Linked DNA regions of Homo sapiens: region 2 is linked to region 1. The links come from fine-mapping of genetic effects on gene expression. A gene starts in region 1. The other region holds a variant in brackets. All regions are shown on one strand. Distances are between the middles of the regions.

What was found. PIP is the estimated chance that this variant, and not a neighbour inherited with it, causes the effect.
Region 2: its variant is the best candidate, but not a certain one, in a credible set for the expression of CTPS1 in putamen (GTEx, PIP 0.89).

What each region holds. Positions count from the first base shown.
Region 1 is chr1:40,972,962-40,988,812 of GRCh38, forward strand. CTPS1 (CTP synthase 1) reads left to right here and starts at 6,735. Exons shown (of 19, transcript NM_001905.4): 1 at 6,735-6,868; 2 at 10,317-10,495; 3 at 11,860-12,030; 4 at 14,411-14,511; 5 at 15,633-15,749. The coding sequence starts at 10,330. RefSeq lists silencers at 2,016-2,310, 6,524-6,713, 6,984-7,273, 7,344-7,483 and an enhancer at 7,684-7,733.
Region 2 is chr1:41,372,202-41,388,052 of GRCh38, forward strand. It overlaps FOXO6 (forkhead box O6), which reads left to right. Exons shown (of 3, transcript NM_001291281.3): 2 at 9,415-10,007; 3 at 10,009-11,389. The coding sequence ends at 10,480. It overlaps FOXO6-AS1 (FOXO6 antisense RNA 1), which reads right to left and starts at 3,468. Exons shown (of 2, transcript NR_135817.1): 1 at 3,324-3,468; 2 at 2,803-3,051. RefSeq lists enhancers at 1-173, 14,869-15,849 and a silencer at 10,036-10,085. The variant G/C (reference allele first, on the strand shown) is at 7,346.

The sequences.
Region 1 (15,851 bases):
TGTGTTACAAGCAATCCAATATTATTATTATTATTATTATTATTATTTTTTTTTTGAGACGGAGTCTCACTGTGTCGCCCAGGCTGGAGTGCAGTGGCGCGATCTCGGCTCACTGCAAGCTCCATCTCCCAATTTGTGCATGGCCTCATACATCATAGAGTGGTTTTGACTTTATCCCGAAGGTAATGGAGTGTCATTAAAATAGAAAATTCCTATTTTTCCTTTCCTTTGCCTCATTTTTTGCTCACATTTTGTAGACACACACACAAGTGACTTTAAATCCTTTCTTGAACAAAGTGGTTCACACCATTCTCCTGCCTCAGCCTCCCCAGTAGCTGGGACTACAGGCGCCCGCCACCACACCAGGCTAATTTTTTGTATTTTTAGTGGAGACGGGGTTTCACCGTGTTAGCCAGGATGGTCTCAATCTCCTGACCTTGTGATCCGCCTGCCTCGGCCTCCCAAAGTGCTGGGATTACAGGCGTGAGCCACGGCGCCCAGCCCAATTATACACTTTTAGTTATTTAAAATGTACAATTAAATTATTACTGACTATAGTCACCCTGTTGTGTTATCAAATACTAAGTCTTTTTTTTTTTTTGAGACAGGGTCTTACTCTGTCACCCAGGCTGGAGTGCTGTGACATGATCTTGGCTCACTGCAACCTCTGCCTCTGTGGCTCAAGTAATCCTCCCACCTCAGCCTCCCCAGTAGCTGGGACAACAGGCATGCACCACCAGGCTCAGCTAATTTTTTTGTACTTTTTGTAGAGATGGGGTTTTGCCATGTTGCCTGGGCTGGTCTGAACACCTGCACTCCATCAATCCACCCACCTCGGCCTCTCAAAGTGCTGGGACTACAGGCGTGAGCCACTGCACCCAATCTACTAAGTCTTATTCATTCTTTCTAACTATATATTTTTTGTACCCATTAACCACCACCTTCCCCTCTGCCTCCCTTAAAATATAATTTGGTAAGTGCTATGCTCTGGGACGTCCCAGCAGCAATAAAAGAATGGGAGAGAAGTGCTAACCCCAAATGAGGGAGAGAGTCTGCCCAAAAAAATTACTTTGGGGAAGTGAAGACCAAGTTGAGATGTGATGTGATGTTAGCAAGAAAAAGGCAGGAAGCAGGGGGGTAGGTGAGAGCCAGCAGAGGTCTATGCAACGATTCATATGTGGAAAAGAATACATGGCATGTTCAGAGAACTGAAAGAATCATTGTGGCTGGAGCATGGGGTGGGTGATGTGGCTAGAGAGGTAAACTGAGGCCAATTTTTGCATGGCCTCATACATCACAGTGTGGTTTTGACTTTATCCTGAAGGTAATGGAGTGTCATTAAGATGAAAAATTCCTATTCTTCCTTTCCTTTGCCTCATTTTTTGCTCACATTTTGTAGACACACACACAAGTGGCTTTAAATCCTTTCTTGAACAAAGTGAGGACATAAACCAACAAATTCACTAAATAACATAATTACAGCTAGCTCAAGTGATGAAAATCCAACATCATACAGTCATATTAAAATAACATACAGCCAAAAAGAATATCTACATATGCACAGAGTGTGCTTGAAGGATAAACCAGAAACTGGTAATAGTGGTTGCTTCTGGGAGGAAACTTGGGTGGCTGGGGAACAGGTATGGAAGGAGAGCTTTTACTGTGTATTCCTTTTTAACACTCGAATTTTACGCCATTTACATATCTATTAGAAACTAAATAAAACATAAATAGCCCCAATCTGGGAAAAAAACAACAAATCTATCACTAGTTGTAGGCTCCCTCCTGCCCCATTTCTCAACCAGATAATCCATTAGAATGCCAGACTAGAGTGACAGCGTATTCATATAAAAGTAGAAAGCTCGAGGAAGTCCTGGAGAAGAAAAAATAAGCAAGACTTGATGATGGGCAGAATGAGGGACAGAAACAGAAAGACAATCCAAAGCAAACCTTCGCGTGTGCTCTCAGGAAGGTGTTTACATGTGTTCAGTCTTGGCTCCATCGTCTGTAATATAGTAATAATGACAGCACTTGCATTATAGGGTAGTAGTGGGAGTTACAGATGCTAGATGCTGGTTACTAAAAGGTCCACAAGACGTACTTGATAAGGAAAGTGACACACAGAAAGGCTAAGTAACCTCAAAGAGATTCCAATCTGGTATGGAGGAGACAGATAAGTGAACAGGCAATCTCAGCAGGCTGTGATAAACGCCTCAGAGGAAGCACTGGGTGTGCCACGGAATGTGCGGGAGGCACCCTGTCTTAGCCTGGGTTCCCTAGGAAGAAAGCCGGAGGTAGGTTCTTGAGTCAGCGAGTGACTGAGGAATAACCTCAGGTGAAGACTGTGAGGGAGCGAGGGGAGCATGGGGCGGGGAAAAAGTGAGACAAAGATATGTGTTTAGCTCAGGAGTTGGCACATTTTGGCCTTCAGACCCAAGCTCTATTTCTGTAAAAGAGTATTTTGTGAACACAGCTATAGTTCTATTGAAATAAGTCACATTCATTTAATCGATATATTATCTATGGCTACTTTTGCACTATGAAGGCAGAGTTGAGTGATTGCAAGAGACCATATGGCCCACAAAGCCTAAAATACAGACTGGTTCTTTTCAGGAAGTTTGCCTCAGCCTGATCCCACGGGGAGCTCTAGAGCACCAATGGGATCATAGAGTTGGCCCACGTGTAGGCGAGGCGCCTGGCTCACCTCAGGACCTGGGCTTGGAAGAGAACTTGGGGTTCAGGACACATCCAGCCTGGGAACATCAATTTGGGAGTAGTCAGAATAAGGATTTTTTTTGTTTGTTTTGTTTTTTAGACGGAGTCTTGTTCTGTTGTCCAGGCTGGAGTGCAATGGTGCAATCTCAGCTCACTACAACCTCCGCCTCCAGGGTTCAAGTGATTCTCCTGCCTCAGCCTCCCGAGTAGCTGGGATTACAGGCCTGCGCCACCACACCCAGCTAATTTTTGTATTTTTAGTAGACGGGATTTCACCATGTTGGCCAGGCTGGTCTTGAACTCCTGACATTGTGATCCGCCCACCTCGGCCTCCTAAAGTGCTGAGATTACAGACGTGAGCCACTGCGTCTGGGCCAGATGGTTTTAATGACTAGATAATGACTTTAGAGAGAAGGGATCCTAGAACTGAGGCTTGGGGCAATGTTTATAGTTCAGGATAGAGGAAAAGGAAGAGGATCTAGGTAGGGAGATCTAGAAGGAGAAACCTGTGAAATAGGAAAAAATGAACAGCAAGTGGTTTCCTAGAAGCCAAGTAAAGGACACCCACCTTTTAAGGAGGAAATGATCAGCTGTGACAAATGCTCTTAGGGAAGTGGTCAGTTTGGGGGCAGCTCTGGGGCTGTATAGCTGCACCTAGGAGCCCAAAAGGAGACTGGGCCTATGGTGGGGGAGAGAAGCAGCCCAAATATGTAAATACATACACATGCGCACGTGCACACACACATATGCATTCATGCCATGCACATACAGCCACACTGTTGTCTATTTTTTTTTTTTTTTGAGACGGAGTCTCGCTCGTCGCCCAGGCTGAAGTGCAGTGGTGCAATCTTGGCTCACTGCAACCTCCGCCTCCCAGGTTCAAGTGATTCTCCTGCCTCAGCCTCCTGAGTAGCTGGGACTACAGGCGCCTGCCACCACGTCTGGCTAAGTTTTGTATTTTTAGTAGAGACGGGGTTTCACCATATTTGCAAACTGGTCTCGAACTCCTGACCTTGTGATCCACCCATCTCAGGCTCCCGAAGTGCTGGGATTACAGGCATGAGCCACTGCGCCCAGCCCACTGTTGTCTTTATTTGGGACTTACGGACATTAGAGATTGGAGTCTAGGCTGATGTACAAAGAAGAGGTCTGAGAACATGGAGGTTAATTTTTGACGAGATCAGTTTCAGTGAAATTATATGAGCAAAATATCCAGATTGGAATGAGTTCAAGAGAGGGAAGAAATTGAGACAGCAAAGTACAAACAACATTTTTTAGGAGTTGTGCTGAAAAGTGAAACAGAAATGGAGGGGGAGCTAGAGAATGGCATAGAGTCAGGAGAGGGGTTTTAAGATGGAACAAATTGCAGCATGTTTGCATCACGGTAGTGGAAAAGATCTACTAGACAGGGAAAGACTGATGACGCAGGAAGGGACATTCTACTAGACATTCTTGAGTTGATGAAAGGATATGGCACTTGCATACTAGACATTCTTTGAGTTGACAAATGGATATGGCACTTGGAGCAAAGAGGAGGTTGACCTCTGGGAGTGTGGGCAGTTTGTCCACAGTAACAGGAGACAACGCAGAGCTTGTGCGCAGATAAAAGTGGTTGGTGGATATGAAAAATCTACTGATGGCTTCTATTTTCTCGTGAAATGGGAAGCAAGACCACCAGCTGAGGAGAATATGGGGGAGGAGATGGAAGAGCTTTGAGGAAGAAGACAATGTCAAGTGGTCATTCAGAGGAGTGGTTGGGTGAATGGCTCATTTTTCCATCTCCCATAGCATCTTCATTACCTCAGCAAGTATGTTCTCAGCATCTGTTATGTTCCAGGCACTTTGATAAACATCAAATGCTTCTTGAAAGAAGATGTGGCTGTAGAGTACCTTCAAAGACAACCCAAACTTTTTTTTTTTTTTTTTGAGATAGAGTCTCACTCTGCCCAGGCTGGAGTGCAGTGGTGGGATCCTAGCTCCCATTGGCCTTGAATTCCTGGGTTCAAGCATTCCTCCAGCCTCAGGCTCTGGAGTAGCCAGGACTACAGATGCGTGCCACCATGCTCAGCTAATTTTTGTATTTTTTGTAGAGATGGGGTCTCACTATATTGCCTAGGCTGGTCTTGAACTCCTGGACTCAAGAAATCCTCCCACCCTGTGTCAGCCTCCCAAAGTGTCAGGATCACAAGTGTGAGCCACTATGCCTGGCATTCCAAACATTTTTTAGATTTGGAGCTGAATGCAGCATGGGCAGGTTGTCAGGGTTGAAGCACTGGTGATCCAGATCTGGAAGGAGCCAGAAGCCTCTAAAAGAGGCCACTGCAGGAGCCTCCTGACCTGGTTTCTGGGAATCCATCTGCTTCAATGATTTTCCTAAAACACAAATCTGATCCCATCACATCTTTTTTTTTAAAACTCCTTCAGTGAAGATAGTTAAGAACTTGTGGCAGACTGCTTCTAGAGAACAAAACAGGAACACTGGGGTACAGAAATAAGAGATTTACTTTTCATGGATACCCTTGTGTAGTGTTTGGGGAAAAATTATAACCATGTACATATATTCACTATTCAAAGGAAGGTCAAAAGCCTCTCAAAAGTTTCTACAGCTTTCCACTATCCCTAGGAGAAAGAGAAGCCTTTACTTGGTCTATAATGCTCTTCACCGTATGGCCCTACCCAACTCTTCAACCTAATCTCATGTTAATCTCGCTTCCTGTGGCCCTTGTGGACTTGGCTAGACTGGCCTTCCAATTCAGCTGTGCCGGCCTCTTTGGGCTTGTACACAGGCTTTTCCTTCTGCCTCACTTTTAAAAAAAAATTATTATTACTATTTTTATTTTATTTATTTATTCTTTGAGAAGGAGTCTCGCTCTGTCGCCCAGGCTGGAATGCAGTGGTGCAATCTTGGCTCACTGCAACCTCCACCTCCCAGGTTCAAGCTATTCTCCTGCCTCAGCCTCCTGAGTAGCTGGGACTACAGGCACCCACCACCACGCCCAGCTAATTTTTGTATTTTTAGTAGAGACGGGGTTTCACCATATTGGCGAGGCTGGTCTTGAACTCCTGACCTTGTGATCCGCCTGCCTCGGCCTCCCAAAATGTTGGGATTACAGGTGTGAGCCACTGCGCCCGGCCTACTATTATTATTTTTATAAGAAACGGGGTCTCGCTATGTTACCCAAGTTGGTCTCGAACTGTTGGGCTCAAGCATGTCTCACTTTCTTATCCCCGCCTCTCCCTTTCCCATCTTTGCCGTCTACTTAGGTCTCTGCTTCAAAGTTACTTTTTCAGGGCGGGCTTCCCGCCTGAATTCCCAATCACCACCGGACTTGGGTCAGTCCCCGCGCTGGGCACTCACTGCCCCGGCACCAGCATCTCTGCAGCAAGCACCCATAACAACCATAAAGTGTAATGAGCTGCTCAGTGTGCCTCCCTACATCGTTAGTCCGAGGAGAGGGTCCCTCGGTGCCCAGCACAGTGCGTGGCACAGTCGGTGCTCAGGGAGCGATAGCTAGATGAAACCGTACTTTTCGGGATCCTAGTCCATCCAAAGCAGCCGCCTTCGGGGCAGGTGTGGGGAGGAGGGAGGCCGACGAGGAGCCAACGCCGCGCGACCCTCCGCACTTCCGTCTTGGAGGCCAGGGTGGCGCTGCCGCCGTCCCTCGCCCGGAGGCAGAGATGCGCTGGCGCATCACCGCCAGGAGCCCACAGTGAAAGACCATCGGATGGAAGGCGACGCCCAGAACTCCAGGAGACCGCTGTGGGAGGACGCGAGGCCAGGTGACGAATAGGCCAGGCGTGAGTTCCCAAACAGCCTCCTCCCCTTCAAGAGAGTAAGCTTGGGCCACAGGCTGGGACGGAAGCAGAGGGGCAGACACGCCACCACCCGCCCGGCCTCGAACCTACGGCGGCACAGTTCAGCGGAGGCGGCCCAGCGGTCCTGTCCCGCGCCTGCGCACTCCAGGCCCCGCCCCGCCCCGCGCCCTCCAGGCCCGGCCCGCCCTCCAACCTCTGCGTGCGCACAGCCTAGAGCCCGCCTCCGTGAAAGACTGCCGGGCGCATGCGGTCGGGGTTGTTCACTGGCTGTCCGGGGCTCCGCGCGCGTCGCCGGCCCAGCTCTGTCGCTGACGGGAGGATCTGAAGCCGGCCGCAGGTAGGCTGACTCCAGGGATCCCGGGGGGGATCTGTTCTCCCGCGCAGGAGTCAGCGGCGCGAGCTGAGCCCGGCGCCGAATAGCCCCGCCGCCGCGGTGACGGACGTCGCTCCTACCAATCAGGGGCGAGGTGACTCGGCGTCCTGCCCAATGGGCTGTGTGCCTAACGGGAGTGGGGCGGGCGCCCCGGCCGGCGAGCTGCCGGCTCCCGCGCGCGGGCCTCGTGGCCGGGCGGCGCTGGGGAGAGGGGCCAAGCGGGGCGCGGGGCGGCTTCAGAGGCTGCGGGGCCTGCGCTGCCGCGCTGGGCCGCGCCGAATCAGCTCGGCCGGGCTCGTCGGACGGAGAAGGCCGTAGGGGAGTGGAGCGGCGCCCCCCCCCACACCCTCCGCCCTTGCTCTTCGTCTGCGAGGAAGCCCGGCAGTCGCCCATCCATTCAAGCAGTGCGGGCCTCGGGCCTCCGGCCTCGGCGCGGGCTCAGCCGCCCGGGGCTGGGCGCGGCAGCTCCGCGCCGTAGGACGAGGGGGCCTGCGAACTCGCCGGCCCTGGGCCCCGCGGCTGGCCTTTGGGCCTCACGGCTTCCTCCCTTCCCGGCGGCCGGGGGTCGGGGCGCTGGCGGTGTATAGAGCTCACCACGTTTGCGTGGCGCCCTTCCGTCCACGCTCGTTACAGTTTCGAATCCTCAGCGGCCCTGTGACGCGGGCGGCGCAGAGATTCTCACCCCCATTCCCCTAGGTGAGAACCCGCGTTGCAGGCAGCTCAAGTGACATGATTGAGGTCTGCACACTAGTGATGGGGGCTGGCACTTCATCTCATAACATTGAAAGAAAAAGCATTTCCCCCCTCAGTCTTTGTTGAATTTCTCTGATGCGTCTTGATTTACGTTACTTCTGTGCCGGAAAACCTTCTTGCGCCTTCCGTCACCTTCAGGATTAAGTTCAGATTGGGCATGCCAGTTTGCACATGATCTGGCCCTTGCCTACCTTTCCAGTTTATCTTCCACTGTATATCCCTGCTTCCCCGCCTTCCCCCTCACGGCCTTACCTCTGTTCTCTGTAGCTGCCCTGCACCTGCCTGTTCACCCTGTTCCCTTTCCTGTGCTCTGAGTCGTGCAGTCAGTCCTTCAAGGCCCATTGCAAGTCATATCTACAAAACAGGAGCCGCCTGGATCCGCCCACTACCCCCAGGACTTGTCTCACCTTCCTCTGATGGCCATGGTACTGAAAGCGTCTGCTCTCATCGTCCCCCTTTATAGTCTAAACATGTTTTCTGTCTGCTTCCACCGTCACTGAATTACTCATTTATTTGTTAATGTTTCATCTCTCCAACTGGACTGCCAGAAAGTTGAGATATGGGCCCAAATCTGATTAATGTTTGCAGTCCCCAAGCACAGTAGCTGTCATGTAAGTCAGTAGCCCATAAGGATGAATGAATGAGCCTCCCGCCTGATCTTTATGTACACTGGCATATGTATTGCCAGGCACTGAGACTGCAAGAATCTAAAGAGAGAAACTAAAGAACGTAAAGAGAGATGTTAAACTCTTAGAGTAAAATTGGGACAAATCAAATGTAATTGGATGAGATGAATCTTTTGTAGAAGTAACTCACTCGGTGGCAGAGGAATTTCTAGGATCATCCAAAACTTAGGGAGACCAGGGTATAGTCTCAGTAAGGTATATGTCTGGTTAGAACATATCTAAAATGTACCTAAGACTGATTTTCATGTGTCAATAAGGAACTGTAAAGTGAGAGACTTAGGGTCAGATAAGCTTGGAGACACCGCATACTGTATAGCAGTGATCACAGTGCGAGTTTACTTGCTAAACACTCCCAGGATTCTTGCGTTAAATGACTTGGTTTAATCAGCGTTTCTCTGATTTATATCCATAACACCCTTTTTGAGAATCCCATGTGCATTTTGTTGAAACCAGGGAGCATGCTTTTGGAAATGCTGCAGCAGAGGATGCAAAGAGCCTTTGGAGCGGGGAAGACTTCTGAGCATTCTTCCTTCCCTGCCAAGTGTGTTCTTTCTTGCTCTGGGGAGGGGGTGGGGCGGGGGAATGCTTCGAGCACAACTCCTTAGTTTTCTTGTTCCTTAGTTTATTTTTATCATAATTTGGCTTCACATGGAACGTTCCTGAGGAGGAAAATGTCCTGACCATGCCAAAGTAAGCATTTTCTGCTACTTTCTAATTGTGTTTTTCATTTTGGTCACATTTGGGTTTGCTGACCAAATGGACGATCCTGGACCTCTGAAGCTGGGGACCAGTGATAAATCCTCCGTGGTGAGCCTGTCACGGTCTCCTCACCTCTTGTCGATGCTGTTTTCACCTGCATCTTGACTCTGCTGCCCTTATATCTTATTTCTCCTTTCCCTGCCACCGTGGCACTGCTTTTTGGATTTAATCTCATCTCCCCTCTCTTTGAGTCCTCTGCCCGTCATGTGCTTCAGACTGGTTTCTTATCTGATGTCCCTCTCCCCCAGTATTTACAGTCTCTCTTCATTGCATGCCTGGGAGAGATTTCTGACAAGGAGCAAGTTGTTGTTAAATTATAGAAGAGAACTACTTTTTCTTTTTTTTTGAGGTAGTCTTATTCTGTCGCGCACGCTGGAGTGCAGTGGCATGATCCCAGCTCACTGCAACCTCTGTCTCCTGGGTTCAAGCGATTCTCCTGCCTCAGTCTCCTGAGTAACTGGGACTACAGGCGTGCGCCATCACAGCCGGCTAATTTTTGTATTTTTAGTAGAGATGCGGTTTCCCCATATTGGCCAGGCTGGTCTCGAACTCCTGACCTCAAGTGATCCTCCTGGCTCTGCCTCCCAAAGTGCTGGGATTACAGGCATGAGCCACCATGCCCAGCCAGAGAACTACTTTTAATTAAAGGAATTTTGGTTTAGCTGCAACCACTTTTAAATGTTGATGTTCTTTCCTTTTAGTCTATCTTTTGTAACCTAGAGGAGCTGTGTTTTCTTGATGATATGTTGTAGTTTAGCCAAAGACATTATTTATTTCCTGGAGAACTGGAGTACTTATCCAAGTTTGAATTTTTTTCCCATGTAGGGAAAATAATGAGGCACCTGCCTGGTATCCCAGTGTCTGGCAGTGATGTCAGCAAACATTTGGGGTGTAGTGTTCTATCAGCCAGCTTAGAGCTGGTTTTATTAGGTTGACTCTGAAGGTTATTAGTTGTCAAAGCTTTAAACAAAAGCTGTGTTATTAGAGTAGCAGTTGTTTTTCTACACGTATTTGACTAAAGCCATTCAGTGATCCAAGAAATGTTTGTTTTGATCCTATTTAAACCTGACGAGAACCTTCTGAAGTCCTGTGACAGAGAAACTGAGGCTTCAAGAGGGTTCATAGCTAATAATTGGCAGAGCCAGTGTTTGAACCCAGATGAGTTTGGTTTGTTGAGATACATTTATATCATCTGTAATTTTTCCTTCTTCCAGGTCAAAGAGTAAAATGAAGTACATTCTGGTTACTGGTGGTGTTATATCAGGAATTGGAAAAGGAATCATTGCCAGCAGTGTGGGCACAATACTCAAGTCATGTGGTTTACATGTAACTTCAATCAAAATTGACCCCTACATTAACATTGATGCAGGAACATTCTCTCCTTATGAGCATGGTAAGCACAGTGGATTTCTTCATAATAATTGCATGTGGCAGAACATGTCAGCACTTGGGAATTATGTGCACGGTTTGCATAACTTTTATTTTCTGCCTTCTAACAGGTCCCTTAATACAGCAGAATGATACTTTTCTCACCTAGAAAGGAAGAAGCAGAATTCTTTTTTTTTTTTTTTTTCTTTGAGACAGGATCCCACTCTGTCCCTCAGGCTGGAGTGTAGTGGTGTGATCATGGCTCGCTGCAGCTTCCACCTCCTTGGCTCAAGCGATCCTCTCACCTCAGCCTCCTGAGTAGCTGGGACTACAGGTGTAAATCACCATGCCTGGCTAATTTCTAAATTTTTTGTACAGGTGGGGTTCCACTGTGTTGTCCAGGCTGGTCTTGGGTCCTCCCACCTGTAATCCCAAAGTGCTGGGTTTTATAGGTGTGAGCCACCATGCCCGACTGCCTTTTACTTCTTTGTTGTTATTGAGAACCTGTCAATGGTGTGACATACAGCTGTGGCTGTTACTTCAAAGATTAATTGCTTAAAACTGGGAGAGATGTTAAAACATACCTCTTAAGTTTTAAAATTCTGCATTCGTACTCCTACTCTCTAGCGTTGAGGTGAAAATATGCAAGCATTAAATGTCACTAGTGCAGAAATCCTCGTAACAAATGGCATCAGGAAAAGATCCATATACCTGAGTGATATTTAATACAGAATTCTTGAGCAGAGGATGAGTTATCTCTCTGAGGGAGAAAATGAGACTTTTTTTCCTTTCCTGTGTTTGAGCTTGTCTCCTATTGTGATGGTAGGAATGAATCATTCTGGGCAAAATTTCTAGAGTGAAGTTTCATGGAATGAATGTGCAACAAAAGAATGGGGTAAATATGTGCAGTTTCACAAAGTTGTTTAGAACAAAAGCAGAGCTCGGAAGCTGATTTTTATAATCAGCACAAGCTTAATATGCATATATCCAGGTTTTGAATCAAATATTGTTATCATACTTTAAACCATATTATGCTCAATTAGGAGACGTTTCTGAAGGTTCTTTTTCCCTAAGCAGCAGATGCTGTATACTACTGTAAAGTCCTGTATGCACAGCCCACTGGGCTGTCATTTCTTCCCATCCCATGCTATTTTATAACTCTTCTTAAGAATGAGTTTGTTGACAGGCTAGAAGTATGAGGTTACCTTTTAGAGAATAGCTGGTAATTTTTCTTTTTGTGTGTCATATTTAGTCTTCTAGAAGTGAATTTCTGTGCTTCCTATTACGTAATTGCACACCTTGTTAATGAGTGTTTTATTTCAGGATTGCAGTTGTGCCATGGTATAGGTATTTTTCACTTAACGTAAATGGTTTCTCTGTTCACTGCAGGTGAGGTTTTTGTGCTGGATGATGGTGGGGAAGTAGACCTTGACCTGGGTAACTATGAGCGGTTCCTTGACATCCGCCTCACCAAGGACAATAATCTGACCACTGGAAAGATATACCAGTATGTCATTAACAAGGAACGGAAAGGAGATTACTTGGGGAAAACTGTCCAAGGTAATACTGGATTTACCTTTAAAGCTTAAAAGTCTTAACCAGTTTAATTTCTTCTCCCTCCCACCTCTACACAGATGTGTAATTCCCTTTTGAGTACAGAAGTTTACATTGTATGTGATTTCAGCATGAAACTCTCAAGGTATTGTTACTGAAATATGCCTTCAGTTGAAAAATCAGAATTATATTGTTGTTTGCTAAAAAAAATAATTTGAAGAACTACTTCTTCGTTGAAGCTTGTCAATTCTGCTAAGGCAGCATGATACGAGTCCAGAGAGCTGTTGTTTTTACACAGTAATGAGTGTGAAAGTGGTAAAGGCAACTCGATTAGGGCATTAAGCCAGATGGCATGTATGTGTGCATCTGGGACTTACTATGTATAGAAGTGAGAAGGAAATGAACATCTATTGTGTATACTGGTTTCCAGGCCGTTCATCAGTGCCATATGGCCTAGGAGGAGCCTGAGAAGTGGGTTTCTGGGTCCTCCCAAGCTTTCACTGGCACAGCTTCGCTTACATCTATTTGCTGTTTTGGGGTTTTGTACAAACATTCATTTAAGGAAAATGTTTTGCTGCTTTAAAAAGGTGGGGATGGAAAACTACTGATCTAGTATAATGGCAGTGGCCCAAATTTGGAGAGGTTGCTGAAAAGTGGCTTTAATCTGAGTTATGAGAGCAGATCTGCTTTTGGCTTTAGACTTTACTGGCCTGAAAGCTGAGGGTCACACTGACAGCTGGCTCTGGTCTGGGGCTGCCCTGGCAAGATTCTGGGCTAATTGGGTCATGTTTGGATCTTAGCTTCCCCTCTCACCAGCTTTGTGAACATGGGCAAATTAACCTCTTCAAAATGTGGATTCCTTTTCTGTAAAATGGAGACAATAACAACACCTACCTCTCTAGGTTGTTAGGAAGATTAAAGAAACTAAAAGTCAGTGAAGTGTTTCCCTGACTTCCTGACACATAGAAAGGAATCAGTTAGGAATTAGAATGGTTTTGATCTTACAGTTTGCTGTTTATTTATTCATCATCCATCAAATTTGCATTGAATGCTCACTGCAGTCAGACCCTCACTGGTGCTGGTGATGCATGTGATGAGCAAGACCAGAGAAGTCATTGCCCACATGGAGGTTACCTGTGGGGGAGGCAAACAACAAACATGAAACAAAACGAGACGTCTGTCAGAAGCTGTGAAGAAACCAAGTGGAGTGAGGACAGAGTGACTGGGGAAAGCCACTTTGGGCAGGTGGTCGGGGAGTCTCCCAAGAGAGGCCATTTGAGCTGAGAGGCCAGTCACAGCGAGAGTGGAATGAGAAGTGCGGAGGCGCAGGGCTACGAAGGCGTGGTTGGTCCGGGAATGGAGGGGAGGCCGGCATAGCTAAGGCAGAGTGACTGAGGGAGATGGTCAGAGAGCGGGGGTGGTAGCCACAGCCAGGTTCTACCCAGTCGCTGGGCCGCAGCAAGAAGCTAGGAGTGTACTCGGAGGAGTGGGAAGCCACCGAAAAGTTGAAGTGTGGGAGTGATGAATTCTGACTTGAATTTTAAAAGATCACTTTGACGCCATGTGTGGAGTAGATAATGAATATTCTTCTGCGTGAGGCAAATGAATATCCTTGTGCATGAGGCATTGCTGTAACTGGAGTAACCTGGAGTTAAACAGTAATCTTCACCTTTTAGGAACTTGCCATCTGTGCCCAACAACTATGATTTTTGAAGTGTTGAGCAATTGCTGGCATTCTTTGAGCATTGACATGGCAGGCACTTTACCGAGCATTTTACAGGTGCTGTCTCACAAAATTTCCACAGCTTAACAGGTGGGGAAAACAAGCTTAAAATGGTTCTATAATTGGCCCAAAGATCCACAGCTAACGAGTCATGAGACTAAGGTTTGAATCCAGACATTCTGACCCCGGGTGCTGTGCTTCTAACCACTCTGCTGTGCTGTGCTGGCTCACTGCAGTGGATTGTCTACCCTTTGGTAAACTGGAAACATATGGAACAGGGTCCCAGAAGTCTCTTGTTCCTGGAAGTGCACTGAAGTGTAATGTGCCTACCTTCAGCTGTGAGCAATAGGGTTGGCTATACTGGTGTGTGGCCAAAAGGGTAGACTCTGCACAGGGGCACGTGCGCCTGTGTGGCTCAGGACACTGCTGTCAGCCTTGCTCTGTTGCAGGGCTTCCAGCAACAACTTAGACATCTGGCTGCAGGAAGTGTGAGCTCAGAGATTTGTTGAGGCCAGTTAAAGGGGGCCTCAAAAGTATTTTTATGACCCTATTGCTACTCTCTCCAGGCAAAGAGTGCTGCAGTTTGTTTTCACAGTAAGTGCATTTGTCTCAATCAATGTAGATGGACAAGCGTAAGTTCCCTGTTTGTTTTCTTTTTCCCAGTTGTCCCTCATATCACAGATGCAATCCAGGAGTGGGTGATGAGACAGGCGTTAATACCTGTAGATGAAGATGGCCTGGAACCTCAAGTGTGTGTTATTGAGGTTTGTATGATTCCTGCACATGTGAACAAGTGTACTCATCTCCTTAGTCAGCCATCAATAACTGATAAGACAGTTCCCAGTGGAGCCCTTGGCCTTCCTATCTCTGGTGCAGTATGTTGCAATGTGGCAGGTAAGGGCACAGTTAACAGTCATGTGGAATGGCCACGCAAGGGAAAACCGTAGTTTGCCCAGTGTTCCTTTTTTGTAGCATTTATGGTACAATCACTTAGTACTGATTGTCCCCATGAGTAGTGTGACACATTTTCATCTGTCTCTTGAGCAAGTCAGCAGATCTTTTGCTTTCGTCTGGCAAGAGCATTCGTCTCCGAATGAGCTTCATTTGGTTTCAGTATCTGTACTCCTGCTGTGCTGATCCTAGCTGTTGGATCTCAGTGTTCCTCAGATAACAGGAGACTCAAAAGTTCCAGCAGTTTGTTTATAACTAATACTTTTTTTTTGAGACAGGGTCTCACTCTGTCACCCAGGCTGGAGTCCAGTGCAGCAGTCATGGCTCACTGCAACCTTGACCTCCTGGGCTCAAGCAGTTCTCCTACCTTAGCCTCCCAAGTAGCTGGGACTACAGTGCGCACCACCATGCCCGGCTAGTTTTTGTACTTTTTTGGGAGAGGCAGGGTTTCGTCATTTTGCCCAGGATGGTCTCTAACTCCTGAACTCAAGCCATCTGCCTGCCTTGGCCTCCCAAAGTGTTAGGATTACAGATGTGAGCCACCGTGCCCAGCCAACTGATGCTTTTTCAGTACAAAAATTATTTATGGTTAACTAAGGAGATAAGATTTAGGTTTTTCTTTTTTTTTTTTTTTTACTTTGTCACTGTGATAGAGATAACATTCCTGGCACCTCTCTCATCTGACCTTTTTCTTGAAATGATGTGGAAAGTTCCATAATAACCTTTGGGAAGGATGAGCCTGTCCAAAAGAATAACCTTTTAGTACAAAGAGTTGTCTAATTCCTGTTAACTGTTAACTAACATTATACAGGGTTAGAGAGTCCGTGTTACATAATTACTGATACTGAATCAGGAAGACAGAACAGTTGTTAGAAAACTAAACTGCCAGAGAAGGGTTTAGTGCCTAACCTCTGAAACAACTTTGTTCTTCTAGCTTGGTGGAACCGTGGGGGACATAGAAAGCATGCCCTTTATTGAGGCCTTCCGTCAGTTCCAATTCAAGGTCAAAAGAGAGAACTTTTGTAACATCCACGTCAGTCTAGTTCCCCAGGTAAGTAAGACATTGAAAGTTTTACTTTGGGGGAGATGGAGAGGAGGGAGGAAAGGTAAACCGGAATGATTTTCACTCATTGTCTAGTAGTTTTCACTTGAG
Region 2 (15,851 bases), 400 kb after region 1:
GCAAGGACCTCTCAGTCTCTAGGAGAAGACAGATGGCAGATGAGGGCTGGTGCCCCGGTCTGGGTGGGCCGCCCTGGGCTCCTGGAGCCCCTTGGCATGGGGACCAAGGGCAGCCCCTGGGGGCAAGGCCAGTGTCTGTGCGGGTGGCCATGCCCCTGGGAGAGCAGATGGTTCTCTTGGCACCATGCCCACTCTTCCTCTTTCTCCCCCAGGAGCCAGCCTGCAGGGCTGGGGCACAGCTGCTGGGCCCTCCCCAGAGCTGGGCTCAGGGCAGGGCTGGGTGAGGTCACTGCAGCTGCTCCCAGGGCCTGGGGCAGGGGAGTGGGGAAGTGCTGCCTGCAGAGGGAGGGAGGGGCTCAGACTGAGAGGGGAGATGGAAAAGTCTGAATGCTTTGCATTTAGGGGTTCTTTTTAATCCCGAATGAAGGAGGGTCTGTGAAGGGGTTGCTGAACTAGTATGGAGAGTCCCCTTGCCCCTACCCCAGGCTCACGCTGGAGCTTCTGCTTGGCTTTGGCTCCTCTCTGGAGGTCTCTCAGGGCAGGAGAAAGAGCAAGGGCCCTGGGTGTAAATTCCTGCACCACCACTTACACTATGCGACCCTGGGCAAGTCAGTTTGTCTCTTGGAGCCTCAGTTTCTCATCTGTAAAATGGGGACAATAAACCAACCAGAGGGTTGTTACAAAAATTCAATGAGATAATTTTCGAGTGGCAGCACAGGGCATGGCATGTGGTCAATGTCTCAGAAGCAGTAGTCCTTCCCCACTCACTGCCTCACTTTCCCAAGGAGGCAGGAAGTACTGGGGTCAAGTAAGGAGGTGGCAGAGGCAACAGGAGCTGCAGGAGAAAGCAGCAGGGAGGAGGGTCAGACAGGACCCTGGTAGAGGGTGGGCAAGCCTTGGAGCTCTGGCCTGAGATTTTGCTGAACAGAAACTACACAGAAATGCCAGGCATGAGCAGCTCGTGGCTACTGAGGGCTCCATCCTATCTCTTGACTTCTCTTGAGCCAAGGATTGCCCCACAGAGTTCGAGTAGGGAGGCCAGCTCAGACACCACTTTGCTCTGGTTTGCTGTTAGATCTCTACAGGAGCACTAAGGTGGGAGCATCTATCTTTGGGGCTTGCATAGGGGATGAGGAAGGTGCCACAGAGCTAGCCTTGATGGAGGAACAGGAACTGATAGAGCAGAGAAAGGGACAAGAGTAAAGGGAACAGTGTGCAAAGGCACAGGGATGGGGACATCCAAGGTGGTTGGAGGCCCAGATGGCCCTAAGGGAAGGGGGCGATGAGGCTGGAGGACATCAGAGGGCTCTTTAGTATCAGCCTGGTTTTGGACCCAAGCCCGCAGGTGACAAGGACGAATGGGCATTGGAGCAGTGTGAGGTTGGACTTTCGTTGGTGGTTTATTTGCTGCCGAGCCTGGGTGTGTGGGCTCTGCTTTCTCTGGGGGGTGCCAGAGCCTCATGCCTTCCTTTGGATATTGGTTCCTCCTGGCCCCAGGCTGCCCACTCTAGGATCCGCTGCTGATCCTGAGCCCACTCACCTGGAGACATCTGTGTCCCATGGTCCCCAGCTGCCCTTCTATCCCTTCTCCACTGCAGACCCTAGTGCCGAGGATTTGCACATGGCCTCGGGTCCCTGGCATCATCCAGGTCACATCTTTTGCCAGGAAGAGGCCTGGACTGAGAACCTGAACTTCACCCCAGATGGCAGGGCAAGTGACTCTCAGGGTGTCTGTGGCTCTGTCTGACACAGGTGTGTGTTCCTAGGCCAGGCTGGGGCCCCAGAGTTGGGTGGGGGCAAGGGGTAGGATGGGGAGGCTCCTGGGGCTCTGAGACAGGGATGGGATGACATTCTTGACATGTGAGGTTTCATCCAGGTCCCATATGTCCCTGTGGATGCTGGGATTGTTATCTTCGTTATAGTGGAGGCCCACTGTCACATGGATGAAGTTGGGATTCAGTCTCCTGTCTTTGACCTCTCCGTATGCAGGAAGGAAGGCCAGGAGGGAAGGAGGAAATGGGAATCATAGAGGGGATCAGAGCCCTCACCACAGCCCCACAGGAGGTCACTGCAGTAACAGGTGCTGGGTCATTTTCCCCATCAGGTAGTCAGGGTCAGTCTCCTGAGGGAGGGGCTGGGCTGAGCCTTTGACTGTGATGCAACCTGGACAGGCATCCACACCTGACCTTGGGCTTGGGCTGTGATGGGTGGACACAAGATGCAGGGCCGCACTTGGATCCTGAAAGACCCCAGGTACCAGGGAGGCCAGGAGGTAGCACAGGGTTGGTGGTAGGTGGGGGCACAGTCCTTGTCCCCTGTCTCTGATGAAAGCTAGGAGAGCTTGGGCTTGAGCGTCAAGGTGGAGATGGCCACTGGGGTGGACAGCAGAGTGTCCCCTGCCACATTAGGGGTAGGTGTGGGAGAGCTCTGGCTTTGGAATCCAGCAGCCCTAAGACCCAAGCCTGGCTCCGTCATTTCCCAGCTTTGTGGCCTCAGGAGTCATTTAACCCACCTGAGCTTCAGTTTGCCCCCTTTGTAAAATCGCAGTACCTACTCACAGGATGGTTATCAGGATTAAAGGAGCCTAGCCTATGTTAGGCATGTAGTAGGTGGTGCCCTTCTCTGGCTTCAGCATTTGAAGCACATGCCAGTGGTGTGCGAGAGCTGGTTTGCACTGGCTCATGAGGGCTGATCGTGCACACTTCTTCCCAATTCTGCACTCGGTGACGTCATGTGGCAGTTTAAAATTGGCTATGATGTGAGTATCCGTACCACAGAAAGCAGCAACAGCTACAAATCAAATCAGGTAGGTTTTTTTTTTAACTTCCAGAAGAGCTGGTGGTTAAACATTTGCCAGCACACCACTAAATGTGCCCCAGAAAAGGTAACTTCCCCTAGTCCCACTGCCCAGGATCAGAAGAAGATGGCACAGAGATGGCCAGGCAAGTTGGCTCACACCTGTAATCCCAGCACTTTGGGAGGCCGAGGCAGGAAGATCACTTGAGGTCAGGAGTTTGAAACCAACGTGGGCAACATAAGAAATCCTCCTCTCTACAAAAAATATAAAAATTAGCCGAGTGTGGTAGCGCACACCTGTGGTCCCAGCTACTCGGGAGGGTAGGGCGGGAGGATCACTTGAGCCCAGGAGGTCAAGGGTACCATGAGCTATAATTGCACCACTGCACTCCAGCCTGGGTGACAGAGGGAGGCCCTGGCTCTAAATAAATAAATAAATAAATACCCTGGCAAGAAAGAAAGAAAGAAAGAAAGAAAGAAAGAAAGAAAGAAAGAGGAAAAGAAAAGAAAAGAAAGAATGAACGAACCTGGCTATAAATAAATAAGAAGATGGTACAGCAACCATGAGTCCATGTCCCAGAATCCATCCTGTGGGCCCTCTGTAGCCATGGTGGGGACAGAACAGGAGGCAGGGCAATAGTGGAGTTCTGGCTTGGCCAAGCAGCCTAGAACTCAAAGTCCATGGCCCCTTCTGGGCCTGGAGAAATTGGATGGTTATAGCACCAGGCAGCCCTTGTGGGTGGGGGACAGCAAATGAGGGACCTCTCTTTTCTCTACACTCTCCTTTGGCTCCCGGAGATCTGGCAGGCCCTGGCTGGAGGCATAAGATTAGATGAGGTTGAGCTGTTGGAGAATGAAGCTGTGTTGGGAGAAGAAATGAGGTTGTACCGGAAGATCAACGAGGTTGTGCTGTCAGGGAATGAGGTGGTACTTGGGGGCAAGGTGAGGCTGCATTATTAGATAAATGAGGTTGTACTGTCAGGGGATGAAGTGTACTTGTAGTAGAGATGACGTCCTGCTGGATCAGTCGGCTTTTGCTCCATCAGAGAACACAGCCACACCACAGGAGGAAGGAGAGTGTCCGACTCAGAGGATAAATGAGGGTGTCCTGCTGGATAAATGAGGGGGCCCGTCAGGTGAATGGAGTGCTGTTAGCAAATGAGGTTGTACTTGCTGGATAAATGGGACTGGTGTGCTGGATAAATGGGGTTGTGCTGTCAGGTGAATGCATTACTGCTCGTGGGTGAAGGGCATCCTGGGAATAGATGAGGGTGTCCTGCTGGATAGATGAGCTGCCACCACCAAATGGATCAGACCCTGTCCATGAGGGAGGCACCATCAGCAACGACGAGGTTATCCTGTTCCCACTGGGGCTCCTGGAGCGTCTTCTGGCCCAGGGGAGACCTCGGTGTGTGCCAGCCCTGGGTTATCCAAGTCTCTCTGGGGAGCAGGGTGGGGGGCTGGGGAGGGCAGGCAGCTGCATTGTGCACCGTGGGACCTCTCCTTCACCCCCAATGGATGCCCTACTCCTCTCCCTGGCACCCCTCAGTGGGTCAGACTGCTTCGGACATTCTCACCCCACTGCCTGCTTCTCATCCTGCCTGTGTCTTCTTTCTGCCCAGTTTGGAAAAGCCCCTATTATGTGTCAGCCACTCTGCCCAGTCTTATTTAATCTCCCTACAACACAGTATTACTCCTCCTTGCACATACACACTTTCTCTTATTCATTCATCCATTCATTCATTTGACAAACATTTAAGTGTCTAGTATGTACCAAACACATGAGGTACAGTTTTAAAAAGGATAAAAATCACTGCCCTCATGAAACTTATATTCTAATATAAAGATAGGATAAATAATGTATTAATTTAGAATGTGAAAATGCTTTAGAAAAACATAGAGCAGGATCAGGGGGCCAAGAAATTCCAGGGAAGAGGAACAGTTTTTAAGAGAGGTCAGGATGGGCCCCGTTCCAAGAGATGGCATCTGAACAAAGACTGGAAGGAGAGGAGCGATCTCTGTGGATATCTGGGGGCAGGCGGGACCATGCCTGGCAGGTTTGAGGATGGGAGGGAGGGATGGAGCGGGGTACCTGCATGGTCACTGTGGGTCTTGTGGGCCATGGCAAGGCCTTTGTTCCTCACTGTGAGTGAGATGGAGGGTGTCGGAGGGATCTGGGCAGGAATGGACGTGATCTCGGTTATTTGAAGGGTCACTCTGGCTGCTGCGTGGAGTGCTATAAGGAGGTGAGGGAGGGAGCAGGGAGCCATTTGAGGAATGGAGCTTGAAAACATCTTGCCCCAGGGTCATAGCACTCACAGGTGATGGGGCTGAAACGGGGAATCCAGTTCGAACGCTACAGCTGATGTACTTTGCCCTACTCTAGCCTCCTCCCTGGTGGGGGAATCCCTGGGGGCTGGGCTCCCTGGCCCAGGTTCTGAAGGAGAACGGGGTAGGCATGAGATATAACCCACTGTCCTTTCCCTCTGCCCCCAGATGGTCTCCCTCGGGCCCTGAATCAGGTATGTCCTGACTCCCCTAGCAACATGCTCCAGGTCTGGATGTAGGTGTGGGAGGCATGAGGCCCCAGAAGCTGGGCCCAGCTCTGGGCACCTGGGGAGCCCGGGCATGCCAGGGCTGTGGCTGTGGTGGTGGGTTGCTAGGCGACTCTAAGAGGGAGCCCTGGTTACTGCTGCCTGGCAGAGGCATCTCCCTCCTCTGCCTCTTTCACCTCCTCCATGGCCTCTGGCCTCCCAGGAGGCCTTGTGGTGTGAGCCAGAGCTGTGATCAGTGCTTGCCACTGGATCTGGCAGGGAGCTCTGATTGGTACCAGGTGGCTGGGCCCTGAGGAGCCAGACTGGGCTGCAGGGCCTGAGCTTCTCTCATGGGGCACAGCCCTGGAGCATACCTGGTTCAGAGCCCAGCTCAGCAGTCAGAGGCCTAGGTCATCGCTCAGCTCTGAGCCACCTTGTCTGACCCTGAGCAAGGCATGGCATCCCTCTGTGCCTCAAAGACCCCATCCATCTGGCCTGCAGAATCCTCCCCAGGAGCTTCATTTTCTGTGAAAAAGGGTGCTGAGTGCACAGGGATCCAGGTACTCCTGTCCCCACCACCATTGGCTTGAGTGTGTAACGCTTAAGTTTTGCACTAAATCTCATTTACAGAAAGAGTTCCCCTATTTAAGAAAAATGTTTGAAAACCTCTGGACTGAATGATTCTAAGGATTTTCATTGTCAAACTGAAAAGGTTCCCAGAGTACAACTTGCCCATCTCCTTAGTTTATAGTTCAGGACACTGAGGCCCCCAAAGAAGGAGAAACTTCATCTAGGTCAGGCTTGGTAGAGTGGGAGGAACACGGGGCTGGGGGTCGGGAGGCCTGGGCTCACATCCCTGCTCTGCCACCAGGTCTCGGACAGCCTTGGGCAAGTCCTTTCTTCCCCATGGGTTGGGCCAGCCATGGTTTCAGGCTGAGGCCTGAGCTCCAGGGGTACCTGGCTGGATATGGGACAGAGCAGGGAAGGATGCAAACCTTCAGAGGCCTGGAGCTTGTCTTGGCGGTAATTCTAAAACATGTGAATAATGTGTATAAAGAAAATGTGGGTGGATTATGAAGTCTATGCAAAATTTCCTTGAAGTCTAAAAAGGAAGCTTAGACTTGCAGGAAATTTTGACCTGTGCAACATGCCCCCAGACTTCCCCTGCTGCCAGCTTCTAGGGATGGTTTACATGGAAAGTTTGAGGAGCACTGGAATACTGGCTTCCTAAGATTCTTTGGGATTCTCAGACCTGTTTCTGTCTTCCATGGCAGAATGTGATATCCTTTAGACTTAGAATAAGACCAACCTGTAATCCCAGCACTTTGGGAGGCCGAGGCGGGTGGATCATCTGAGGTCAGGAGTTCAAGACCAGTCTGGTCAACGTGGTGAAACCCCATCTCTACTAAAAATACAAAAATTAGCTGGGTGGCAGTGGCACGCACCTGTAATTCCAGCTACTTGGGAGGCTGAGGCAGGAGAATCACTTGAGCCTGGGAGGCGGAGGTTGCAGTGAGCTGAGATCGTGCCACTGTACTCCAGTCTGGGCTAGAGTGAAACCCTGTCTCAACAAAACAAAACAAAACAAAACAAAACAAAACAAAACACCAACCTGAAATCAATACATGGCACAGCACTTAAGCTGTGTGACCCTGGTAACTCACTTAACATCTCTGAGCCTCACTCTCCGGTTATGAGATAGGGATCACAATCCCTGACTTGTGTGGAGTTCATCTAATGATTACATTTGATAAAGTACTTAGAGTGCCCAGGGCTGAATGGGCAAGCGCTTGCTAGGTGCTGGTACCTGGTACTGTCCTTCCTCCAGGACATAATGACATTGATAAAGAGGTGTTGCCTGAGTGACCTCCAGCTGGAGAAATGGGGAGGTGGGAGGTGGAGCCTCTTGTAAGCCAGACAGTCCTATGGGGGAGGAGAACTGAGGCCTCCTAGGAGGCTGAACACAGGTGTTGGGGAGGGGCTGGGGAGCCAGGTGCAGGGGTGGGAACAGGAAG[G/C]GGGTATCTACTTGAGGGAGCACTGCTCCCTGGGGGCCCAGCTCCCCTCCCCTCAGGGTCTCCAGAGAACCAGGCAGGGCAAGGCTGGCAAGTCCCAGCTGTTGCCTTCAAAGGCCAGAAAGTGCCAGAGACAGGGAGCCTGGGGCCCTGAGGAGTCAGATCAGTGCCTGGAGCTGGGGGTGAGGGGTGGGAGGGTACCCTGGGCAGCAGGAAGGACCCCTCCTCCAGGAGACTGGTGGGAAGGAGGCAGGAGGGAGAGCCTCACAGAGCAGTGGCTGTGAGTGTGGCTGGGTGGATTCACAGGTTAAGAGCAGGTCCATGAGCTGGGCAGAGCTGGAGTGGTACCGGGCATCGTTGCCTAGCTGTGGGGCCACGGGAAGTTACATCATGCCTCTGGGCCTCCGGTCCCTAGTGTATGAAATTGGAGAATGCCAGCTTCCCAGAGTTGTTGGTGCCCAGCACAGTTGCACACAAGGCATGATGTTAAAGAGATGGAAACAGCAGGTCTGTTGGGGGACCGAAGGGGTGAGAGCTTCTGGCCAGAGTGAGGATATAACCAACGTTTATAAGCACCTGGTGTGCAAATACTTATTCATGCACATGTAATGATCTTACAGCCTTAAGAGGTAGTTACTGAATGTAGCCCACTTTTTCAGAGTAGTTCACTGAGGCTCACAAGAAACTGAGTAAACACCCCATGGTCACATAGCTAGGCAGCCAAAGAGCCAGGCATCCTGTCCCACCCTCTGATACCCAAGCCCCTGCTGTTTCCATAGCAGTACCTGGACCAGGAAGTTGAGGCCACCAGGTGGGAGGCCCCAGAGGTGGGGTGCCGCAGGCCCAGCAGAAGTTCTACTCCAGATTCCAGTGGGGCCAGTGGACTTCCTGCCTTCCTCTGTCCTCAGAACAGGCCTGGCAAAAGCAGGCAGTGACATGGGGAGCACTGGAGACTGGCACAGCAGAATTAAAAAGAGGATGTATGGAGAGATGGCAGAGGTGAAGCCCAGGGAGGAACCGAGGGACAGCAGAAAAGGCCACCTTGGGCAAGCCATTCCTCTCTCTGAGCCTAGGTCTTCTGGCGTGTGAATGGGGACTTTGCCACACACTGTGGGGATTTTGAGAAGGCTCCAACAGCAAGGGGCTTGGAGGGCAGGCAGGTGGGTCAGGAGAGGAGGGCAGGGTGCAGCCCAAAGGGCAGGCAGGAGAGCTGGGCTGGCCTGAAGGTGGGCACTGAAGAGGGTGAAGGCTGAGGTCTCTGTGGCAAAAGGATGTCTTTTGAGGGGCCTGCTGGAATCCAAACCCTCTGTGGAGTTCACAGCAGCTAAGAGGAGTTGGGGTGATACCTCCGAAAAGTCTCAGGCCTGGACCCACCTTGGGGACCCCAGCCTACTCTGTTTCCCCTGGCCAGGCCCTCCCAGCAAAGGGTTAACAGTCTTCTCTACCTGCAGTTGCATTTTAAAGACACGAAATTAAAGCAGGTAATTTATTCTCCCCACACACGAAAGAGCAATTAGTTCTAAACAGGGCTTAATCAGTCACCGCGAGATTGATTTCTGGAGCCCTGGGTTTTCGGGCTCCTGGCGCCACGCCAGGCTGGAGAGGGAGGGGGGCGGACAAATGAGCCGCGGCGGCATAAGCCCTTACGTAATCTGCTGGGGGCCCTGGCAGCCTGGTTAGCCCCGCGTGGGGCTTGGCTGAGCTGGGGAGACGGGGTCCTGCTCCCTGCTGCAGGCCCCCCGCAGGCTCAGAGTAGCCCACAGGGTTGGCCATGCCCCCAGGGAAAGGCTAGGCCCAAAGCTGTGGCCTCACCCTCTGGGCAGTCTCTGTGTGGGAGTGGGGAGGGATGGGGGGTGCAGTTCTGGGGCAGAGGGTGGGTACTCTGGGTTTGTCCAACCCGGTACTTACACCTGTCCCCTCCCTCTCCCAACCCCCTTACCTCATCCTCATCCCTATCTCCCTCCTCCTCCTACACTCTCTTATCCTCCCCCTCTTCTTTCCATCACGTCCCCTCTCTCCCCATGGCCTCCTCACCCCCCGACTCCCACCCGCGTCCTTGTCTCTGGCCACAGAACTCCATCCGGCACAACCTGTCGCTGCACACCCGTTTCATCCGCGTGCAGAACGAGGGCACCGGCAAGAGTTCGTGGTGGATGCTGAACCCCGAGGGCGGAAAGACAGGGAAGACCCCGCGGCGCAGGGCCGTGTCCATGGACAACGGGGCCAAGTTCCTGCGCATCAAGGGCAAGGCGAGCAAGAAGAAGCAGCTGCAGGCGCCCGAGCGAAGCCCGGACGACAGCTCCCCGAGTGCGCCCGCCCCGGGGCCGGTGCCTGCCGCAGCCAAGTGGGCCGCCAGCCCCGCCTCGCACGCCAGCGACGACTACGAGGCTTGGGCCGACTTCCGCGGCGGCGGGAGACCCCTGCTCGGGGAGGCGGCCGAGCTGGAGGACGACGAGGCCCTGGAGGCCCTGGCGCCATCATCGCCGCTCATGTACCCAAGCCCCGCCAGCGCGCTGTCGCCGGCGCTGGGCTCGCGCTGTCCGGGTGAGCTGCCCCGCCTGGCCGAGCTGGGAGGCCCGCTGGGCCTGCACGGCGGCGGCGGCGCGGGGCTGCCCGAGGGCCTGCTGGACGGCGCGCAGGACGCGTACGGGCCGCGGGCCCGCGCCCAGGCCCGGCCCGGTGCTGGGTGCGCCGGGGGAGCTGGCGCTGGCGGGCGCAGCCGCCGCCTACCCCGGCAAAGGGGCGGCCCCGTACGCGCCGCCCGCGCCCTCGCGCAGTGCCTTAGCCCACCCCATCAGCCTTATGACGCTGCCCGGCGAGGCGGGCGCCGCGGGCCTGGCACCGCCGGGCCACGCCGCCGCCTTCGGGGGCCCGCCCGGCGGCCTCCTGCTGGACGCTCTGCCGGGGCCCTACGCTGCCGCCGCCGCCGGGCCGCTGGGCGCCGCGCCCGACCGCTTCCCGGCCGACCTGGACCTCGACATGTTCAGCGGGAGCCTCGAGTGCGACGTGGAGTCCATCATCCTCAACGACTTCATGGACAGCGACGAAATGGACTTCAACTTCGATTCGGCCCTGCCTCCGCCGCCGCCGGGCCTGGCCGGGGCCCCGCCCCCCAACCAGAGCTGGGTGCCGGGCTGAGGGCCGCCTCCCGCCTCCGGGCGCCCCGTCCCGTCCCCAGGGGGCCTCTGTCTTCCCATCCTGATTCCCGGGTCCCTGCCCCCGACTCTAGCTCCCCAGGAGGCGGCCCCAGCCCAGCTAGGGACCCCTCTCGGAGGCCGGCCGCCGGGGAAGGGGAGGGAGGGGCCGGGGCACCCCACTGCTCCTGCCCACACTCCTGAGATCCACCCCCTTCTCCTGGGCAGGAAGCCTGGGAGAGGAGGCTGAATTCCAGGCTGGCTGGGAGTAGGGAGGAGCGGGGTGGGCCGCCTGGTGTGGACGGTGGTCGGGGAAGCCAACTAGGAGATGGGCCAGGGAGCGTTTACAAATCTTCAGTTTCATTTGCGGAGGCCTAGCCGTGACCCCGCGCCCACCCCAAACACGGATCTGATTCCCACTTGACACACTTTCCCACTGGTCTTAGTCTCACCCACCCGAAGCCAGCAACCCTCTGCGGAAAACTCACACCTACCTATATCCATCCACCCTGAGCAGCCCTCCACCCCCAAATCGCCCTCCGACGACCGCCACCCCCACAGTTCAGTCTCCCCCTCCCATCCCTGCCGGCCCTCGCTTCTCCCCTCCCCCGTCGGAGTCAGTCCCTCTCTTCAACCGCCCCCACCCCCTAGTACTGGTCTCAGCTTCTGCAGCGGGCCTCAGCCCCGTCCACCCCCAACCCCGACGCCCCTTTCTCCGCGCCAGTTCTGGCCCTTCTCCCATATTTATAAGTGTCCGGCCGGGACGGGCGGTGGGCGCGGCGTCCCCGGCGCGTATCGTAGGCAGTGTACCGTGGCCGTGCCGTCAGAGTGTGCGTGTGCGTGTGTGCCGTGTCGAGGCTGTGTAGAGTGCATTGTACAGCATATTTTCATGAATAAAATTGTTTTAAATATTTCCCGCGCCTTGGGCTAGAGGAAGGGGAGTGGTGGCGGAGGATAATTGACAGGGAACTTGGGGCAGGGGGAGGGTTCATGTGCCTGAGTCACTATTGTGGCTTTTTGTCTGGGTACTCGTCAGCCTTTGCTAAACTAATGCTCCTCTGCCCGGCACATATTGGTTAAGCGCCTACTGAGTCCCCCGTGCTGAAGATGTGCTTCGTCGAGCTCTGCACCTGTTTCTGTGAACATGTGCATGCACGAAGTTTTGGCCCAGGAAAATGCGTCCTAAATAAGCCTCAGAGATTGGGAGAGGATGCACAAATATTTACTGAGAACCTTTAGTGCCAGGCTCTGTGTTGGGCACGATTTTTGTTCCCATTGTACAGATGAGAAAACAAGGTCAGAGAGAGAAAATGACTTGGGAAGGAGGGTAGAGATGGTGAAAAGAGATCCCTTTGAGGTGCACAGACTGCTGTTGGAATCCATTTTCTACAGTTTGCCAGCTGTGTGACCTCGGGCAAATTTTCAGCCTCTGAAGCCTTGTCTTCCTGGACTACACCATGGAATAGTAGCATCCATCTCATGAACTTCTGTCAGGCATGAGGAAAGGTATGGAAAGTGTTCAGCGCAGGTCCTGCACTCGTTCATTCCAGGAAGATTCGGTGAGCACCTGTTAAGTTCTTATACCAAGCATTGGGGCTGCCCTAGAGCCACACGGACACAGTCTCTACTCTTAAGGAACTTAGAGGCTCCTGGGGAGAACAGGCCAGCAAATAGGCGATTATAGATCAAAGCTGTGCTGATCGGAGGAGGAGCTGGGGGCTGTCGTGGGAATGAATGATGGGGCAGCACTCATCTTGGACTTGAGTCAGGGAAGGTGCCTGGACTGGTGCTGCCTCAGCTAAGCTTGGTAGGAGGAACTGGCATTGGGAAGGGGATTTAGATGAAATGGCATGTTCAAAGGCCCAGAGTCAAGAGGTGTGTGGATTCCAGAACCAAAAGCAGTTGAGTGTGGCTAAAGTTCAGAGAGGGACAGATTACTGATGGCAGGGAGGCTAATGGGCCAGAGGGTTCAACAGTGGAAGAGGGACAGTGTGGCCCAGCCAGAGGTGCTGATGTGGCTCAAACCAAGTTATGGGGGAGGACAGTGGGGCTGCAAGGGAAAGGATGAATTCACATCTACTTTGGATATGGAGTCATTGGGGACTTGGTTGTGGATTGGACCTGGGGGATGAAGGACAGGGAAGCATCAATTGATGCTTGGTTTTTGTTTGGGTATCTGGGGAGACAGGGCCATTCCTTGAGATGGGGCACACCAAAGCAGGAGGAGCCCTAGGGAAATTGATGTGCTCATTTGAGCTATAGTTCATGAGAATCTTTGGGATTTGGAGCAGAGGGAGGGATGTTCAGGAGCATACACACTGCGTGAAATGACATTCTCTGGCACTGGGCAACATAGTGGCCCTGAGGTGTCCACTTGCATAGTGGGGTCAGAGCCCAGAAGGTGTCTGGGCTGGAAAGGGAGGTCAAGAATCAGGAACACAGAAGGTGTCACTGAGGGGTTGGAAATGGCTTGGGAGGGGGAGGATTGCAGAGTTGGAAGAGCAGGAAGTCCAAGTCTGCTTTGATGAACATCTTGGCACAGGAGGGACCCACTGGCTGAGAGGAGAAGAGAAGGAAAACCAGGACCCCAGGGGATTGGGGACGGTGTCCTAGAAAGGAATACCCAATGTTCTTGCCTTCTGGAGCCTCACTTTCTCGGTCTGAAAGATGGGGCAGTAGCACCTGTTTCACACATTTGTTTTGAGGAGTAAATAAGATAGGAATTATTGTGTGAGGTCACACTATTGGCAAGGGCCAGAGCCCCTGAGTGTGTACCTCCAACACCCAGGCTCTCGTGCAGCCCCCACTGCCTCTGATGAGGTGGCTGAGAGCAGAGGAGCAGAGGAACTCAGAGCCAGTAGAATCCGCACAGATTCTGGGCTCTGAGTTGGGGCTGAGACCCAACCTGGTATGGCGGGTGTCCCTGCCAAGTGGGGAGCACATAGAGGCTGATGGCCCCTCCCCTGGGACAGATGCCCCAGCCCCACCCTACAGCCAGCCTCTGAGACAGCCCAGCTGGGTGTGGGCTCCATATGGGCTGCAGAACTGCCCCCACCCTAGGCTGACGGAGGGTGGGCCGCTGGTGTGTGTGCGCAGGGCTGTGTGTTTCCATGTAGTCCCATATGTGTCTGTCTGTGTGGGCCTGTGTGTGTGTGTCTGTGTGTGTGTTAGGGGTTAGTGAGTGTGCTGGGCAGGTGGGGTGGTGCTTGAGGTTCTCCCTGCCGAGTGTGCACATGGCTGGGCGTGTGTGTGTGTGTGCGTGTGTGTGTGGTGGGAATGACAGTGGATCTGCCTCCAAGTGTGCCCACACAAGTGCCGGGGCTGTGCAGTCCATGCCTGTGTGAGGTGCTGTCTCTGTCCCCACATGTGCCATGCACACCCTCCTCTCTGGGCTTGCCTGCCTGTCTTGGCACAAAGCTCTCTCCGGGAGCACCAGCACTGGTGTTCCCCTGCCAGGAGTGTCTTCTGGGCTGCTCTGCTGTCTGTCGGAGGGGAGGGGAGCAGAGGGACACTCCAGACCCTGGGATCCAGCCCAGCTTATGAGCAGGGAGGAGTGGGACCACCTCAGAGCTCTGACCGAGCTCTGCCTGGCTCAGGCCAGGGATCATTCCAGACACAGCTTCTGTCCTGCTGGGTCTCATCAGGAGAAAGGGGGCAACACCCCTGTGGCTGGGGGGCTGCAACTGGCTCTTCCCCATCAGCTTTGGAGCCCAGCAGACGCGCTCCCCTCTATGCCCACTCCCTGGGAGGCGTCTGACACATGATTTATTCATAAAAAGCCATTATTTGTGCCAAAGAAGAACTGAGCCGCTGGCTTTTTAAGTGCTGATAATGCTTTCAGCCTCCCTGCCTCTCCTCCTCTCCCTTCCCCTCCCGTCTTCTCTCTTCTCTCTCACCTCCTTCCTATCCTTTCTCCTCCTCCCCTTTCTTCCCCTTCCCCTCCGTTCTTTCCCTTGATATTCCTTGATTGTTCTCCCCACACCTCCTCTCCTATTTCTTTATAGACCTCCCCTCTCACGCCACTCAGCTCCTTCTCTCTACAGTGAGGCTGGGTCAGGGAGGCTCAGAATCAATTGTCCCAAACTGGGTAAGGCCTGCACTAGCCTGGAGCCCCAAGGACCCCACCCCTCCACCTCATCCTTCACCTCCAAAGGACCAGAGGAAGGTTGGGAGGAGGGGGGCCAGGCTGAGAAAAGTGGCGGGGTGAGGGGGGTCTTTGGAGGCTGTCCTGACCAGCTCCCCCTATGCTAAAGGGTGTGATTTCAGCACTCTTATTAGCACCAGTACCCCAGACTCCCAAGTAAACATTCAGTCTTGGTAAAAACAATGCACTTGCTATACAGGTTCAAGGTAAGCCCCTTAGAATGCCTTTCTCCCCTAAAGAATGCCCCCATATAGAAATTCTGGAGTCACCATTATTGAGGTGGTGCCAGGAGAGGATGGCATCAAGGGAGGCACTTGGGCCCCATGACAGAGCATCCCCTGTTCTCAGAGAGGAGGCAGCAGAATGAGTGTGTTCACAGAGCTTGAACATGGACCCAGGAAAGGTTCTTAGAAGCAGACACCATAGACCTACATGTGTGTGGCTTCGAACGTGCACATGCACACACAGACCAGCATGTGCATAGCTGCATACTTGCTCAGGCAGATGCAGAGCCATTCCTCACCCCTTTCCAAAGCTTTCCTCCCCTGAGCACCTGCAGCAGGGGCTGGAACATTTTCCCCATTCAGACACTTGCTCATTCATTCATCCATTCATTCATTCACTCCATGAACTTTGGTTTTATGCCCCCTCTGTGCCAGCCTTTGTGCTGGGCACTGGGGAGGCAGAAATAAACATTATTGGGCCCTAGAGAGGGGGACTGGAGCAGAGAGGGCACTACAGGCCCTCCCCTGCAGCCTTGGGCTGGGGGTTGGGGGCCCAGCAGGTGAGGGGTTAAGTCATTTGGCATCCAGAGCTGGAGCCATTAGGCCTCCTAATTATGAAATTATCGAGGTCCTCAGGTGACTGCTAATTTCACACACACTGTTCCTCTCACGGCTAATGAATGCCCGCAGAACCCACACCTTGTCTTTCCTGCTGAACGGTGACCTGCAGTTAATGAGCTCAGGAAGGCAGACAGGCCTCCGGCTGGGTGGGTGGGGCACCAAGCCTGAGGAGGGGCCCACTCACCCCTCCTTCCCCTCCCGGCTCCCTTTGCTGGCTGCCTGCCCCAGTGAAGACTCCAGGGCCAAAGCCCAGCCCGCAGTTTCTGCAGGACAGGCTAGGCCCAGCGCTCTTGGGAACAGGGAGAGATAAAGATTTGGGAGGGCTTTGGGTCATATGATCCTGGAATGAGCGTGGGCATAGTGAGGGAGGGATGGACGAGGCAGGA